2 linked regions of the Homo sapiens genome follow. The protein of the gene in region 2 purifies or fractionates together with the protein of the main gene of each other region. This does not show direct contact. Each region holds a gene or a part of one and is shown on either strand. Other genes may lie near its edges.

Region 1 (4,626 bases), on a different chromosome or scaffold from region 2:
ATTAAAGTTTGAGAAGCACCGAGCTAAAATCTCCTTTGCCCTTTGGTGTTTGTTTTAAATAACATTGACCTTTTTTTAAAGGGTCCAGGCCAATTCTGTTGTAGAAATCCATTCATAGCCTGGATTTGTCTTAGTATTAACTCATGGTTATACTCAGATGAAACATTTTTAGTAAGAATAGTATATAGGTAATTCTATATACGTCTTATTGTAGCACAGCTAGAGACATATGTCAGGTTGTCCCATTTTTTTTGACTATAGGTTTAGTCACTTGATTAAAGCGGTGACCACCAACTATCGCCTTTGTAAAACATTTTTTCTTTCTCATTAACAAGTAATCTGGCCAGGAGCAGTGGCTCATGCCTGTAATCCCAACACTTTGGGAGGCAAAGGTGTGTGGATCACTTGAGGCCAGGATTTCAAGACCAGGCTGGCCAACATGGCGAAATCCTGTCTCTACAAAAAATACTAAAATTAGCCGGATGTGGTGGCACACACCTGTAGTCCCAGCTACTAGGGAGGCTGAGGCAGGAGAATCTCTTGAACCCAGGAGGCCAAGGTTGCAGTGAACAGAGATGGCACCACTGCACTCCAGCCTGAGTGACAGAGTGAGATTTCATCTCAAAAAAAAAAAAAGAAAGAAAGAAAGAAAGAAAGAAAGAAAGAAAGAAAGAAAGAAAAAGAAAGAAAAGTAATCTATGTATGGGATAATACTCTGAAGACATAAATACTCTTCACTTGGTGGTTTTGCCATTTCTTAATGATCCTTGTCTGAATCAGCTAATGCACTGAGGGTTGAAAAAGAGGGAATGCCTAAGTCTGTCACTCCTTCCAAATTTATTAGCTGTCATTCTTCTGTAGAGAAGAGCTCCCCATTGGAAAGATGGTGGCAGGAGGAGGAGGAGCAGGATATTCCAGGTGAGGCAAAAGAGAAAGCAGTGGCACAGCCCATAAGAAGGCAAGCCCAGGTGTGAGGAGAGGAATGGTAGGGCCAGAAGTCAGTCCAGATTGTACAGAGGAGAAGAAACGGAACTAGATGATAAAAAGATTTGATAGAAGAGACGGAGAGGACAGGATATCACTGCCATCTTCAAACTAGAAAGATTTCCTAAGCCCATATCTGAGCCCAAATCTATACTCAGCCTCCTACAGCCATCTCTCAAGACCTCAGGTGTTCTGATTGCCTACTGAGTAGTGTATTTAAGACTTTGCTACTCAAGGTGTGGTCCATGGCCTGGCAACATTGGCATCACCTGGATGCTCATCAAAAATGCAAAACCTAAGGGCCCCTCCCTACTGAGTCAGAATCTGCTTTTACCAAAATCCCCCGATGCTGGTCAGTCTTTTAAAGTGGGAGAAGCACTGCTTTAAGCCACTGTGGTCCACTTCTCACTTTGGCAGACCATGTGCTCCCAGTAAAAATAGTCTTCCCCTGAGGATTTTCTATGACTTCTATTCACTTTTCCATGAAATTTCAGGAGATTTTTCTGCTCAGCTTTATCCTGCCCTCATCTAGAGAGGCAATGTAGCAGGACATTGAAGAGCAGTGCCTTCAAAGTCAAACACCTAAGTTTGAATCCCTTCTGTGCTATTCGCCACCTGTGGGACCTTCTATAAACATTATCACATTATGAAATCACTTCTCTAAGTCTTGATGAATCCGTAACTCTTGGGGTCAAGTTAAAGGCCAAATGAAATAGTGCATGTAGAGTAACCCTCATTAAGTGCCCAATGAATTAGCTTGAAAATAAGAGGTATCCTTGGCAAAAGTCCCTTTGGGCCATGAGCCAGAGCCCACCTTACAAGACTATGTGAGGGCAACAAGGAAAGGAATGTGGACTTCCCCTGGCATATTCCAAACAGAGCTGCCTTTGATCATTTTTGGTCCACGGGGGCATTTTGTGTCCAAAGCAAATTCAGGAGCTCATTGCATCTGCTGATCATTCCTCTGTGAAAAGAAACAAGCCTTTCAAGGTATTGAGGCAAATTAAGCACATCATTAACACCAAGGCAGTGCTCAAAATAGCTATGCTTTTCAAATACTTGCTAACACTTTATAATATCTTATGATGTCCACAATAACCCAGTGGAAAGATGGATGATTAGCCATCTAACCACTGATTAAAGGAGAAGAAAACACTCCAAGGCAAGGAAGATGGTTGGGATGGGGGTCATTTTACCTGGAGACAAACAGGTTAAACATGACCATTCCTCCCTCCATACATGAAAATAACTTTATTACTGTTGGGAATACTCATCAGACATCTACAGAGGCCAAAAACAGAGGAAGTACACTTAAGGAAGTATACCTCGTTGATAACCACGGAGACAAAGTTTCCTGAGCTACTCAGTGGAGCTGAGAATGAAAACCTGGGAGAGTCCATTTGTTTGTGCCTGCATTCAGCCTAGGCACTACCTTACACAAAGCCAAGTCATTGAGCAAGATAGTTCACATTTCCTGAGCTAGGACCCAGATCCCCAGACAAGATTAGGGAGAGAATTCTAGGACTGGGGGACATCTTGCCAAAGAGGAGTTGGTGAACAACACTTAGTGTAATACCTGTTTATGAACAGTCTTCACTGAATTTCAACAGCCATCATCTCCTTAGACATTGCTTCTCCACCTCCAAATGCAGGGACTGCTTATGGGAGAGGGGAGGAGGGAGGAATGAGCTCTTCTATCCTTTGTTTCTGGAAACAGCATCTCTCCTAGGGCAGTGGAAAGTACACCAGAGAATTTCAGTCCAAGATCTGCCTCTGACTCATGAGTGCCTTGGTTTCCTCCTCCATAAAATTAGCTTGATGGACTGAAAGATGTCTCAATCTCCCTCTGGCTTTGATTGTCTAATCTTGACTACCATGGGTAGCTAGGAGAAGCTGTAAAGACCTCATCCCAAGAGCTCTTCAAAATAGGAATAGTCACGCTTCTGTCATGGACTTCCTGGGCCCTGGGTGAAGGTTTAAATGACAGGTTTCTTTCCTGTTTGAGATGCTCTGCTTTTGACATCCCATGTCTGAAATTAGGAAACCAGAATGCATTCAAGTGACAGAGAGAAAAGAGGCTTTCCTTGACCCCCATATAAATTAGGTCCTCCTCTCTGATATTACTTCTCACAGCTGTGCTATTCAAAGTGTTCTGTGGGCCAGGAGTGTCAGTATTACTCGAAAGCTGCCAGAAATACAGAATGTTGGCCAGGTGCGGTGGCTCACGCTTGTAATCCCAGCACTTTGGGAGGCCCAGGCGGGCAGATCACAAGAGGTCAGGAGTTCAAGACCAGCCTGGTCAACATGGCGAAATCCCGTCTCTACTAAAAATACAAAAATTAGCCGGGGGTGGTGGTGGGCCCCTGTAGTCCCAGCTACTGGGGAGGCTGAGGTAGAGGAATTGCTCGAATCCAGGAGATGGAGGCTACAGTGAGCCGAGATTGCGCCACTGCACTCCAGCCTGGGTGACAGAGTGAGGCTCCATCTCAAAAAGAAAAAAATGCAGAATGTTAAACTCCCCCCAAATCTGCAGAATCAGAATTTGCATTTTAACGAGACTCCCAGGTGATTCATATGCACATTGAAGTTCTAACAGCACTACCTTAAAGCACTATGATTCTTTTCCTCCATAGCTCTTGCCACAACCTGCAATTCTAATTACACATTTATTTATATTTTTTAAATGGCTGCCTTAATGACTAAAGCATAAAATCCATAGGATGTCTTTTAGTGACTAACGTAGTTCCTACCACAGACCAGGTGCTCATTCAAGGTGTGCTGCATGAATGATTCTCTAGGACTTCCCGAACTGCTAGCAGCCTCTGCAATGATGGCTGTACCAGGTTTGCTATTCTAGCCTCTCTCACTGTCCCTGTATATGTCCCTGGGCAGCTTGATGAATTTGATGATTGTGGTAAGACATTTCAATGCAGATATTTTTCTTAGTGCATTTGCACATCATGCTAATCAATGGTCACGCTTGGCAGTAAGTTGTAAGTTGTTTATTAAATTTTAAAATGTTGTGTGTTGTCTCACAAGGGCAACATAAAGGGGAATTTTGTGATATCAAGTTTTCCTGCAAACTGCATGCATAACTGAAAGACTACAAAAACTTAGCTTTGTTAGGTTAAAAGCTTTCAACTAAGGCAACAAAGTCGTAGACTGTTACAGTAGGAAGGGCCTTCCAGGACAAGTTTGCCTCCCTTCCCCTGAGAAGGTAGGGCCCAAATGTTTAAGCTGACTTCCCCCATCTCCAGATTGGTGCTGTGCCAGGGCTTTGCCTTCAGGAGACCTCCTTGACTCACTACCAACCTCTTGCACTAGAGAAGAGATCCATTCATAAGAAAACAAGCTTTCAGCGGAAGGCAAATGACAGACCTCCCAGGGAAATGTTACAATAATAGGGGAACTCCAGATGGTCCTAGTGTTCATACAGAACACTAAGAAAATAAGCTGTGGGCGGCTGCTAATTTCTTGCTTTGGTAGAGGTTAGGAAGTTGGTTTTTTCGCATACACACGCTCACACCTCTCTAGGTCTTTACTAATATTTTAATTCAATGCAATACAGGAGATTCCAACCTGGGCAGGTCAAAAGATGAATAAAATACTTCATTCCTTATTGGCAGAATATTGTATGGGTGT
Region 2 (5,579 bases):
TTGTAGAGACAGGCTCTTGCTATATTGCCCAGGCTGGTCTCAAACTCCTGGCCTCAAGGCAGTCCAGCCTCCTGCCTTGGCCTCCTTAAGTGTTGGGATTACAGGCGTGAGCCACCACACCTTGCCGGTTTCATTTTATACCCAACTGCCCAATTTCCCTTTTGCACTGCCCACTCAATTTCCCTCCAGCCTGCAGCCCAGCTCCGCTCTAGCCTCCCTGCCCAATTTTGCCCCAATCCTCTGCCTGATTTCACTCTGGTCCCACTGCCAGTCATCTCTCCAGTTCACCACCCAATTCTGCTCTAACCCTGTCCAATTTCCATCTAATTTAATCCTTTTGTCTTCTAGCCACCCCCATCCAATTTCCCCCACATTTTACCTCCCAGTCTCCTCCAGACGCTTGCCAATTTCCCTCTGGTTCCCCTATTTCCTGCAGCCTATGCCAAATTTCCCTTTTCCAGCTGCCTGATTTTCCTCTAGTGTACAGCTAGGATTCTCTCCAATCAAACCACCTGATCTCCCTGTACCCCTGTTGCCCGATTTCCTTGTAACCTGCCAATAAATGTCCCCCTAGCCCTATTGCCTTATTATGATGACTGTATTGATAGCCTGTTTTCCAATGAGTCCTGTCGTCTGATTCCCTTTTCATTAAACTAATGTGCCTCCGTCACTACTGCTTTCTTTTTCTCCCTGTTGCCTTATTTCTTTCCGGCTCTGTCACCTGCTTCTCTTTTATCTCTGTTGGCTGGTTTCTATTTATCTTTTTCTTTCTTGTTTCCTTTTAATCCTTACCACCCAATTTCACTATAGTTTCTTTTGTAGTTGGGCACCCTGTTGGAGAGTTGACTTATCACCTGTTTTATTCCTAGGCTATTCTAATGAGAGAGGTACAGGGAACTCCGTGGCCGCCTGGGGCAGGGTGACTGTCTAGGACAGCATTCATCCCATTCCCCACCTGGCAAGGTGGCCAGGACTTGTGTGACTTTTTTTTTTTTTTTTTGAGACGGAGTCTCACTCTGTCACCCAGGCTGGAGTGCAGTGGCACAGCCTCGGCTCACTGCAACCTCCGCCTCCCAGGTTCAAGCAATTCTCCTGCCTCAGCCTCCTGAGTAGCTGGGACTACAGGCGCGTGCCACCACACTCAGCTAATTTTTTGTATTTTTAGTAGAGACGAGGTTTCACCGTGTTAGCCAGGATGGTCTCAAACTCCTGACCTGGTGATCCACCTGCCTCGGCCTCCCAAAGTGCTGGGATTATAGGGGTTAAGCCACCGCGCCTGGCCGACTTGTGTGATTTTCAGGGGCAGGACTTCCGTGCAATCTTCCGAGTCATGTCTGAGAAAGGGAGTAGAATGAGCTCAGTGGGTTGCCAGGACTGAAATGGAAATCAAGTGGCCTTTTCTTGAGGTGTTGGCCCCAAGGGAGGGAAAGGACATCCAGGTACTACTAGGTCCCCAAGGAACAGTCCTCAACCCTGGGGAGGTCCAGTCTTTACAGTCAGCCTTGGGGCTGCACCCTTGGCCCAGCCTGGCCGTGAGGACAGGGACTCACCCACAGCCGCAGTCCATCCATGCAAGGTTGGACTTTGGTAAGAGGTGTCAACAGCACCTAGGTCAGCAGCCACCACTGCTGACCACATGCGGTCACTGCAGATGTGCTGAGTGCTCTCCAGCTTGGGGGAACAAGTTGGACTGAGCCACCTCTTGGAGTGTGTAAACCCCAGGTTCTGTGTTTGCAACAACAGGAGAGAGAAGAGAATCCCCCACAAGTGTGGCAAACTGGATATTTCTGTTTACCTGGCAAAAGGAACTTGAACTAGGTTTGATTTGATTTAGAAAATAAAAAATCTGTCGGGCGCGGTGGCTCAGGCCTGTAATCCTAGCACTTTGGGAGGCCGAGGCGGGTGGATCACGATGTCAGGAGATCGAGACCATCCTGGCTAACATGGTGAAACCCCATCTCTACTAGAAATACAAAAAATTAGCCGGGCATGGTGACGGGCGCCTGTAGTCCCAGCTACTCGGGAGGCTGAGGCAGGAGAATGGCATGAACCTGGGAGGCGGAGCTTGCAGTGAGTCAAGATTGTGCCACTGCACTCCAGCCTGGGCAACAGAGTGAGACTCCGTCTCAAAAAAAAAAAGAAAAGAAAAAATCTACACTGGGTGTGGTGGTTCACGCCTGTAATCCCAGCACTTTGGGAGGCTGAGGCAGGTGGATCACCTGAGGTCAGGACTTCTAGACCAGCCTGGCCAACATGGCAAAACCCCGTCTCCACTAAAAATAAAATGCAAACATTAGCTGGGCGTGCTGGTGCACGTCTGTAATCCCAGCTACTCGAGAGGCTGAGGCACAAGAATCGCTTGAACCCGGGAAGTGGAGGTTGTAGTGAGCCGAGATTGCACCACTGCACTCCAGCCTGGGCGACAAAGTGAGACCCTGTCTCAAAAAAAAAAAAATCTGGATGTCACTATATTAGAACTTGAAACATGGAATAGTTCACACCACACACACCGAAGCCCAGTCTCTATCGAACCTCCTCCCTGCAATTTCCTTCTAACCTCTGGTCTGATTTCTTTTTCTAACAGAGCTGCTTATTTCATTGTTTCTGGGCTCCCTGTGCTTTCCTGTTTGATCTCCTTTTCTTCCTGCAGCCCAGCTAGTATCTAGTCCTGTCATCTGGAAAACCTGGTGTTTCTCTCTTTATCTTTACAACTTAAATTTATTTTTATCCCCTTATCTTCCCCACCCACCCTTGCCCATTAACATTTTATTCTTCTGCCCTGATTACTTTCTCCTCCCGCTGCCTGGTTTCCTTTTTATGTTTGCTACTACTATTTATTCTTGCTGCCTAATTTCTTTTTACTCATGCAGCCTGATTTCGTTTATCCTTATTGCTTGATCTTTTTTAGCCCTGTAGCCTGATATATTTTAACATTTGCTGTCTCATTTACTTCGTCCTTCTTGTCTGACTTCTTTTTATCACTGCTGTCAGATTTCATTGACCCTTTCTGCCAGAGTCTTGTTATCCTTGCTGCCTGATTTCTTTTACTTTTGCTCTCTGATTTCTTTTGGAACCTTCCAGCATCACTTATCAGTTGTGCTTCGGTGTAGGGTATTAGTAGGTGTACCCTCAACCCTCCCCTTGCCTCACTCCCCCACCCAAGCTACCCCAGTGCCTGGACCCTGCACCTGTAGACGAGGATGTCATCAGCCGAGCTGTTGTACTGGATCTGGTACATGCGGATGCCCGGGATAGGCCGCTGATCCGGCCACTGGACAAGAGCAGCTGTGGCCCCGTGCTCAGTCACCTGGACGCCACGGTCGGTAGGGGGCCCAGTGTCGGCCACCTTGGCAGAAGCAGAGGCAGCGGAGGGTGGGGTGAGAGCATCAGGATCCCCGTCCCGCGGGGGGTCACAGCTGGTGCTGTTGGCTAGCTGAGGAGGTGGTGGGGGACCCACAGTCAGCTCCACAGCAGCTGTGGCCTCGCCAGCTGCATTGGCCGCAATGCAGGTGAAGATGCCACCATCACCCGGCTCGGTGACCAGCAGCTCCAGCGTCCCATTGGGGAAGGCGCGGGCACGGCTTGAGTTGCCTAGCAGCCGGCCCTGGGGTGACACCCAACGCACACGGGGCTCTGGGTCCCCCACTGCCCGGCAGCGCAGGGCAGCCGGCCGACCTGCGGGCACAGCCAGAGGTGGTGAGCGGTGAGTCACCACGGGCGGCTCGCAGACAAACTCCTCCTCGCCCACCGCCCAGAAGTAGCGGCCGCCCAGAGCAGGTGGGGACGCGCAGGCCTCGAGGTCGTCCTCCCGCGCCAGGCGACGCAGCCACACCAGCTCGCAGTTGCAGTGCAGGGGGTTCCCGCCAAAGGCCAGCACCAGGGCAGAGGCGGGCGAGCCCCGGGGCCTGGCGAGCAGGGGCAGGCGGGAGAAGAGTGGGTCGGGTGGGATTGTGGTCAGGCGGTTGGAGGTCATGTCCAGCCGGGCCAGCTTGTGCAGGCGGGAAAAAGCGCCGGCGGGCACAGAAGCCAGCAGGTTGTGGTCGAGGCCCAACGTGTTGACGTTGCCCAGGCGGCCCAGGGCCTCCCAGGGCAGCTGCTCGAGGTTGTTGTAGGAGAGGTCGAGGTCCTCCAGTGTCTCGGCACAATCATCCAGGGCGCCGGCCGCCAGCGCTGCCAGCTGGTTGTTGCTGAGGATGAGGTGGCGCAAGTTGACCAGGCCGCGCAGCTGGCCCTCGCCCAGTGAGGTCAGCCGGTTGCCATCCAGGTGCAGGGCACGCAGGGCCCGCAGGTCGGCGAAGGCGCCGGCAGCCACGTGGCGGATGGTGTTCCGCGACAGGCTCAGATGCAGCAGGCCTGTCATGTTGGCCAGGTCGCGGCGGCGCACGGAGGCGATGAAGTTGTCTGCCAGCCGCAGCTCGGCTGCCCGGCGGTCCAGCGAGGGTGGCACGAACAGGAGGCCTGCCCCTGGGCACAGCACGCTTAGGGGCAGCGACTGTGTCTGGCAGCGGCAGCGGCGGGGACATGGGCTGGGTGTGGCTGACTGGGGTGGGGATGAGGCAGGGGCCAGCGGCAGCAGGCACAGGAGCAACGGGAGGATGGCCATCGCGGGCAGGGGTGTCCTGCGGAGAAGAGGGGAGGCGTGAGGGCAGAAGAGGGGTTCTGCAGGGGCTGGGGGTGGTCTGAGACCAGGAGAGAAGGTCACAGTGGGCTGAGGGCAGAAGGGCTGGTCAAAGACCGTCAGATGTGACCAAAAGCCAGAGGAAGGCCAGGCGCGGTGGCTCACACATGTAATCCCAGCATTTGGGGAGGCTGAGGCAGGAGGATGGCTTGAGGCCAGGAGTTCAAGACCAGCCTGGGCAACAAAGTGAGACCGTGTATCTATTATACAAAAATTTTTAAAAATTAGCTAGGCATGGTGGCGCCCACCTGTGGTCCTAGCTACATGGGACACTGAGGTGGGAGGATCAATTTGAGCCCAAGAATTTGAGGCTGCAGTGAGCTATGATTGCGCCACCACACTCCAGCCTGGGCAACAGAGCGTGACTCTGTCTCTCCAAAAGAAAAAAGTAAAGAAATGGTCAGAGAAATGACAGCTGGTCTGGGTGAGTGGCAGGAAAACCAGAGGGCTTTAGACGTGGTCAGAGATGGTAAAAGCTGGCCATGGGGAGACGGGGCAGCCAGGGTGGCAACAATGATCAGAAGTGGTCAGATATGACCAGAGAAGAGAAGGGGTTACAGATGGTCAGGAAGATGAGCAGTGGACAAAGAGAAGGGAGGGCATGGGTTGGGCTCAGATCTGGGGGAGATGACCATGTCAGAGACACGTGGTCAGAAACGGCCCAAAGCCAGCAAGGTGGTCAGAGAGGAGGAAAAGGACAGACATGGCAGAGTCAGTGGGAGCCCAGGACAGCTGCTCAGGAGGATGGTGCGGGGAGAGGTCATCGGAGAGAGGAAAGGCAGCAGAGATGTTCGAGATGATCAGAGGGCATCAGCAAGTGAGAGAGGAGAGGTGGCCAGAGATTATCAGAGGGCATCAGTGAGTGAGAGAGAGAGAAGAGGTGGCCAGAGATGATCAGAGG

The links. Proteins that work in one complex are often made in the same cells at the same time.
Region 1: the proteins of LRFN3 (region 2) and TNFSF8 purify together in Homo sapiens (co-immunoprecipitation; one large-scale study listed by IntAct). This does not show direct contact.

What each region holds. Positions count from the first base shown.
Region 1 is NC_000009.12:114,919,533-114,924,158, reverse strand, and holds part of TNFSF8 (tumor necrosis factor ligand superfamily member 8), read left to right. Parts: intron 1-4,626.
Region 2 is NC_000019.10:35,938,450-35,944,028, reverse strand, and holds part of LRFN3 (leucine-rich repeat and fibronectin type-III domain-containing protein 3 precursor), read right to left. Parts: intron 4,620-5,579; 5' UTR 4,604-4,619; coding exon 3,189-4,603; intron 1-3,188. UniProt on the Homo sapiens protein: Cell adhesion molecule that mediates homophilic cell-cell adhesion in a Ca(2+)-independent manner. Promotes neurite outgrowth in hippocampal neurons.